Linked DNA regions of Homo sapiens. The protein of the gene in region 2 purifies or fractionates together with the protein of the main gene of each other region. This does not show direct contact. Each region holds a gene or a part of one and is shown on either strand. Other genes may lie near its edges.

Region 1 (3,500 bases), on a different chromosome or scaffold from region 2:
GTGTTTGCTTGCACATTGCTGTATCCCTTCTCACCTCCATTAGTGAACTGTCCACCTGAGGAATTTTTCCTCCCTACCACTTCTAATGGAATATTCTGCTAGAACAATCTTCCCCCTCCCTCACCTGTAAGAACTGGCTAAACTAGAAACATTCCACAATGTTTCTTTTTTCTTTTTCTTTTTTTTTTTTTGAGATGGAGTTTCGCTCTTGTTGCCCAGGCTGGAGTGCAATGGCACGATCTCGGCTCACTGCACTCTCCACCTCCCAGGTTCAAGTGATTCTCCTGTCTCAGCTTCCTGAGTAGCTAGGATTACAGGCACGCACCACCCACACCCTCTAATTTTTGTATTTTTTGTAGAGACGGGGTTTCACCATGTTGGCTAGGCTGGTCTCCAACTCATGACCTCAGGCGATCTGCCTGCCCCAGCCTCCCAAAGTGCTGGGATTACAGGCGTGAGCCACCACTCCTGGCCTCTTTTTTTTTTTTTCTTCTTTGAGACAGAGTCTCACTCTTACTCAGGCTGGAGTATAGTGGTACAATCTCAGTTTACTACAACCTCCAACTCCCGGGTTCAAACAATGCTCATGCCTCAGCCTCCTGAGTAGCTGGAATTACAGGTGCACACCACCACGCCCAGTTAATTTTTTTTTTTTTTTTTTGAGACGGAGTCTCACTCTGTCGCCCAGGCTGGAGTGCAGTGGCGCCATCTCAGCTTACTGCAAGCTCGGCCTCCCGGGTTCATGCCATTGTCCTGCCTCAGCCCCCTGAGTAGCTGGGACTACAGGCGCCTGCCACCACGCCCGGCTAATTTTTTTATTTTTAGTAGAGACGGGGTTTCACCATGTTAGCCAGGATGGTCTTGATCTCCTGACCTTGTGATCCGCCTGCCTCGGCCTCCCAAAGTGCTGGGATTACAGGCGTGAGCCACCGTGCCTGGCCAATTTTTGTATTTTTAGCAGAGACAGGGTTTCATCATGTTGGCCAGGCTAGTCTTGAACTCCTGACTGCAGACGATCTGCCTGCCTTGGCCTTCCAAAGTGCTGGGATTATAGGTGTGAGCCACTGTGCCTGGCCCACAGTGTTTCTTTTTTTTTCTTTTGAGATGGAGTTTCGCTCTTGTTGCCCAGGCTGGCGTGCAATGGCATGATTCCAGCTCACTGCAACCTCCGCCTCCTGGGTTCAAGCGATTCTCCTGCCTCAGCCTCCCAAGTAGCTGGGATTACAGGCATGCGCCACCACGCCCAGCTAATATTGTATTTTTAGTAGAGATGGGGTTTAGCTGTGTTGGTCAGGCTGGTCTCAAACTCCTGACCTCAGGTGATCCACCTGCCTTGGCCTCCCAAAGTGCTGGGATTACAGGTGTGAGCCACTGCACCCAGCCCACAATGTTTCTTAGAAGGTAGTTTTCTCTGTATCACAGCAGCTCAGTTCTATAAATGTTTAATTTTGTTGTATGCATTGAATACCATGCTATCCTTGTTTGTGGATGGGACAAGGTGGACAGGTGTGTCCACTCCTATGCCTGGGAGTACAGCATGGTGCCAGGAGGGAGAAAAGCTAGGGCTCAGTGTCTTGGGAATTATGCCAAGCCGGCTGGTGCTGGACTGTGATTATCTTTGAGGATGGGCTTTGGGGCCCCATAGAGCTCTTTTCTGTTATGGGAGGTTTCTAGGATCAAACAGCTATGACCACCATCATCACATTCCTGGCTACTCCACACTATGGAGCTGCGTAATGATGCCCTGTACTATGCTACTGGCTGAAGCATTTGGCACACACCCTTTCTGATCCTCACAACAGCTGAGTGAGGTGGCATTATTACCTTTATTTGTAAATGTGAGAAAACAGAGGCAAAAAGAGGTTAAGTGACCCATTCGGAGTCATAGAGCAAGAAAGTGGCTAAGTCCAGATTTGAGAGCAGGTCTGAGCAAAGCCTGCCTGAAATTTGCTTTTAGTCATCTTGTTTTGTTTTGCCATTTACCTTTTTGTATAATTTTTCTATTGCTCTCTGTTAGTCAAATTATTTTTGAAATGTCAAAAAATTTCTGTGCAGAAAATAAAAACCCTCAAAATAGAGTGCTAGGAGCTCAGGGGGTGGGGGACGAATATAGTCAAGTATTAAGACACAGCTAGGCCGGGCGCGGTGGCTCACACCTGTAATCCCAGCACTTTGGAAGGCCGAGGCGGGTGGATCACGAGGTCAGGAGATCAAGACCATCCTGGCTAACATGGTGAAACCCCATCTCTGCTAAAGGTACAAAAATTAGCCGGGCATGGTGGTGGCAGGCACCTGTAGTCCCAGCTACTTGGAGGCTGAGGCGGGAGAATGGCGTGAAGCCGGGAGGCAGAGCTTGCAGTGATCCGAGATCGTGCCACTGCACTCCAGCCTGGGCGACAGAGTGAGACTCCATCTCAAAAAAAAAAAAAAAAAAAAAGACACAGCTCCCACTGCCGTCAAAAAACGTGGAGCTGGTGAGGTGGTTCATGCCTATAATCCCAGCACTTTCGGAAGCCAAGGCAGGAGGATCGCTTCAGCCCAGGAGTTGGAGACCAGCCTGGGCAACATAGTAAGACCTTGTCTCTAAAGAAAATTTTAAAAATTAGCTGGGCATGGTAGCACATGTCTGTAGTCCCAGCTACTCCAGAGGCTAAGGTAGGAGGATCACTTGGGCCTGGGAGTTTGAGGCTGCAGTGAGCTATGATTGCACCAACTGCATTCCAGCCTGGGCAACAGCACGAGACCCTGCCTCAAAAAAAAAAAAAAAGGCATGTGGACTGGCTCAGTGGGGTGGCCCGAGGTTCGGATGGGCTGTAGGGCAACACTGATCCATGGCTGCAGGAGTTGAGGAAGGGATGTAGTTGTGAGGATGGAAGTCAGAGCTTCCTTCAACGGGTGGCCCCACATGGCAGAGGAGCCCACTGTGGGCGTGACTTCCCTCCTCTCTGTCTCACTCAACCTTGGGTCTGTCAGTGTGATCTGCTGGGAGATTTCTAAGCTTCTAAGACAGCACCCTATAAGGGACCCAGGTGGGGAATAGACCGTGACCAGCCAGCGACCCCTACTACCCGTCACTCAAAAGCACTAGCACCTTCAGCCACTCCTCCTGGGGATGGGTCAGACTTAGTTTTTTAGAAAAGCAGAGTGTTAGGTTCTTAGCTTGGAAGAGGGCAGACAGGCCAGTCCTGATACCTGATGGGGCATACCATCTCCCCTGATTTTCTGGTCCTGTTAGAATTTTCCATCTGAGAATTGGGAGGGTATTGACCTCCGCTTGGTTTCCCCATGATGTGTGGGGATCAGACCCCTGGATAACGAAGGTGTTGTTGAGGGTGGGTAGGAGAGCCTCCCCTGAGTTCTCAGTACCCCTTTGCCTCTCGTGCCCACTGCAGAGGCAGCTTGCCAACTACAACTTTGACTTCCGGAGCTGGCCAGTCGACTTCCACTGGGAAGAACCCAGCAGCCGGTGAGGCCCCAGTTCTTTTGCTGTATCTCTCCCC
Region 2 (3,500 bases):
AGCATTTTATCATTATGAAATGTTCACATGTATTTCCAGAATTGCTTTTGTCTCATTCTTATGGTTAGAATAGATTTATTTGGTTAGTATTTTTATGGTATCTCTTTTTCATACTTTCACTTTCAACTCTTCTGTATCCTTATGTTTTAGATATGTCTTTTATAAATAGCAGATAGTTGATTTATTTCCTTTTTATAATGTTTAGTAATTTAATTGTTTTTTATAAATAGAGACGGGGTCTCACTATATTGGCCAGGCTGGTCTCAAACTCCTGGCCTAAACCAATTCCCCTACCTTGGCCTCTCAAAGTGCTGGAATTACAAGTGTGAGCCCCCATACCTGGGCAGTTGACTTTTTTCTTACTCAATTTTGAAAATTTTTGACTCTTAATTGTATTATTTAGTTAATGTCCATGTGACTTGGATTTAAATCTGCTCTTTTATTAAGTGCTTTATACTTTTTCTAGCTACCTTGTGTTCTTTGTATTTTGCCTTCCTTGCTTTTTGGTGGGATATGGGAATAATTCTTTTTAAGTTACACTTTTTGAGACTCTATTAGCTAGAAGTTTTATATTCATTTTATTATTCTTTTAGTGGTTATTCTGGACAATACAAATGCATTTTTGACTCATCCAATTATATTATTAACCAGTACTTTTTTTTTTTACCTTTTATTTTTTTAAAGGAAAGCCAGGGTCTCACTATGTTGCCCAGGCTGGTCTCAAACTCCTGGCTTCAAGTGATTCTCCCACCTCAGCCTCCCAAATTGCTGATATTAGAGGTGTCAGTCACTGCACCTGGCCATTATTTTTTATTTTTTAAATTGACATGTTAAATATTTTCTCATAGATTGCAAAGACCATGGAATACTTTAACTCCCCACCCCCAATTTACATACCATTTGTGTTGTAATAGTATATTTTAATTCTTAACATATTTTCAACCCAAGGACATGCAGTTATTACTATTTTTAAAGTCTGTATTCAGTTGGATCTCTACACGTTTACCATTTTTGTTTTACTTTCTTCTTCCCTCTCTGACCATTTTTCTGGAATCCGTTTTCCACTGCCAGAAAAACATCATTTACTCTTTCCTTTAGCGAGGACCTGCTTGTGACAGCTTTTCTCAGTTTTTGTTTGTCTCCAAATGTCTTTATTATGCTTTCTTTCTTGAAGGATATTTTTGTTTTGAATGGTTGGCACTTAATATGTTTTAAGCATGGTTGAGACATCGTTTCTTCTGAGGTAAACTGTCACTCTGAATTGTTGTTCTTTTGTGAGTAATATGTCTTTTTTCTCTAACTGCTTTTAAGGTTTTCTCTTTGACTTTGGTCTTCTGCAGTTTTAATATGATCTAGATAATTTGTGATGTTTAAAAATCCTGCTTAGGGGTAGTAGGTGTTCTTTAATATGTCTTTCGTTGGTTTTGTAAAATTCTCATCCACTGTCTCCAAATATGGCCTTTCCTTCATCCCCTCATCTCTCTTTCTGGCACTCCAATTACATGTATGTTAGACATCTCATTGTATCTTCTATGTCTGTTACCTTTTAAGTTTTACTTCATTTTGGCTACTTTTTTCTGATCTCTGTTCCAAGTTAATAACTATCTCCTTAACTATATTTAATCTGTTCAGCCCAACCACTTTTAATTATTTTTTTAAATTAAATATTCCTGTTTGGTTCATTGTCTAATTTTCAGTTGTTACAATTCTCAATCTTATTTTTTGTCTCTTTTGAGCAAGTATGGTTCTTGTAAGGCCTCAATTAACTTAAATATCTCGAGCTCTTTTAAGCCTGTTCTGCTGTCTGTTTTTTCTCCTAATTTTCATTCATGCTCTGATGTCATTTTTTATGTCTGGCTACTTTTGATTATGAACTGGACCTTGTACTTCTAGTTTGTGAAACTAATCTGAAGGAGAAGATAATGTTATTTTCTATGAGAAAAATTTTTTCTGCCAGTTGCAAACTAAAATCACTAATTTTTGGTACTGATATATTTTCTAGCTGAGCTCTAACTTGAGTGGATTTGCCTACTTAGGATTTACAGTTATATTAGGTCATAGCCCTCCATCGTCCCAACCCAAAGAGGAAAGGGTGGCATCATTAGCTGCCCTACCTCTTTGGTGGTACTAACTCCTATCCTGGTCCCCCCAGTCCAGGATTCTGTTAAAAGCACATCCAGACTCTCAGCTTACTCAGCAGCCCCTTATGGAAGGGGCACATGCCTCCCAAAATAATTGTTACTCTAAAATATAGAGCTCTCCCCCTTGGAGCCTGTCTTTTTTTCAGGTATGGTAACTTGTTGCTTTTTATTTTTTGATATTTTGAAATATATTTTGTCCAGTTTGTATAGTTGTCCTGATTAGTTGATATTGGTATAGATTATCTTATCTGACATTATAAGGTAGATGCTATTATTATCCTCAGTATGTAGAAAAGGAAACTAAGGCCTTAAAGAGATTGAGTGATTTACCCTAGGTCCCACACCTAATAAGTGTGAGCCTATTTGATTTTGTATTTATTATTCTTTTTTTTTTTGACAGAGTCTCTCTCTGTCATCCAGGCGGGAGTGCAGTGGCACACTCTTGGCTCACTGCAATCTCCACCTCCTGAGTTCAAGCGATTCTCCTACCTCAGCCTCCCAAGTAGCTAGGACTACAGGTGCATGCCACCATGCCTGGCTAATTTTTTTGTATTTTTTTAGTAGAGGAGGGCTTTCACCACGTTGGCCAGGCCAGTCTCAAACTTCTGACCTCAGATGATCTGCCCATTTAGGCCTCCCAAAGTGCTGGGATTACAGGCATGAGCCACCATATCCAGCCTATTTAGTATTCTTCTTTATATGCATTTATTTATTTATTTATTTATTTTTTATTTTTATTTAATAGAGATGGGGTCTCACTATATTGCCCAGGCTGGTCTCAAAATCCTGAGCTTAGGCAGTCCTCCTGCCTCTGCCTCCCAAAGTGCTAGGATTATAGGCATGAGCCACTGCGCCCGTCCTATTTAGTATTCTTTACAAGACTGATATGCTTTGGCTGTGTCCCCACTCAAATCTCATCTTGAGTTGTAGCTCCCATGATTTTCACTTGAGTGGGAGGGACCCAGTGGAAATAATTGAATCATGGGGGCGGTTTCCCCCATACCGTTTCATGGTAGTGAATAAGTCTCACGAGATCTGATGGCTTTATATGGGGAAACCCCTTTCGCTTGGCTCTTATTTCTCTCTTTGCTGGATGCCATATGAGACGTCCCTTTGCTCTTCCTTCATCTTCCACCATGATTATGAGGCCTCCCCAGCCATGTGGAACTGTGAGTCAATTAAACCACAGTCTTTTGTAAATTGCCCCCTCTCAGATATGTCTTTATCAGTAGCATGAAAATGGACTAATAGATTAATTATAATGGTGTATATTAATCTTATTTTCCTCTTATAACCACCCCCCATTTGAAAATCTAATAAAAGCTATGGACTCTACCTTGAGAAAAATGAAAGCACTCC

What was found. Proteins that work in one complex are often made in the same cells at the same time.
Region 1: the proteins of TBC1D9 (region 2) and ABHD16A purify together in Homo sapiens (co-immunoprecipitation; 3 studies listed by BioGRID and IntAct, with this or other methods). This does not show direct contact.

The regions. Positions count from the first base shown.
Region 1 is NC_000006.12:31,693,325-31,696,824, reverse strand, and holds part of ABHD16A (phosphatidylserine lipase ABHD16A), read left to right. Parts: intron 1-3,392; coding exon 3,393-3,466; intron 3,467-3,500. UniProt on the Homo sapiens protein: Phosphatidylserine (PS) lipase that mediates the hydrolysis of phosphatidylserine to generate lysophosphatidylserine (LPS). LPS constitutes a class of signaling lipids that regulates immunological and neurological processes.
Region 2 is NC_000004.12:140,746,386-140,749,885, reverse strand, and holds part of TBC1D9 (TBC1 domain family member 9), read left to right. Parts: intron 1-3,500. UniProt on the Homo sapiens protein: May act as a GTPase-activating protein for Rab family protein(s).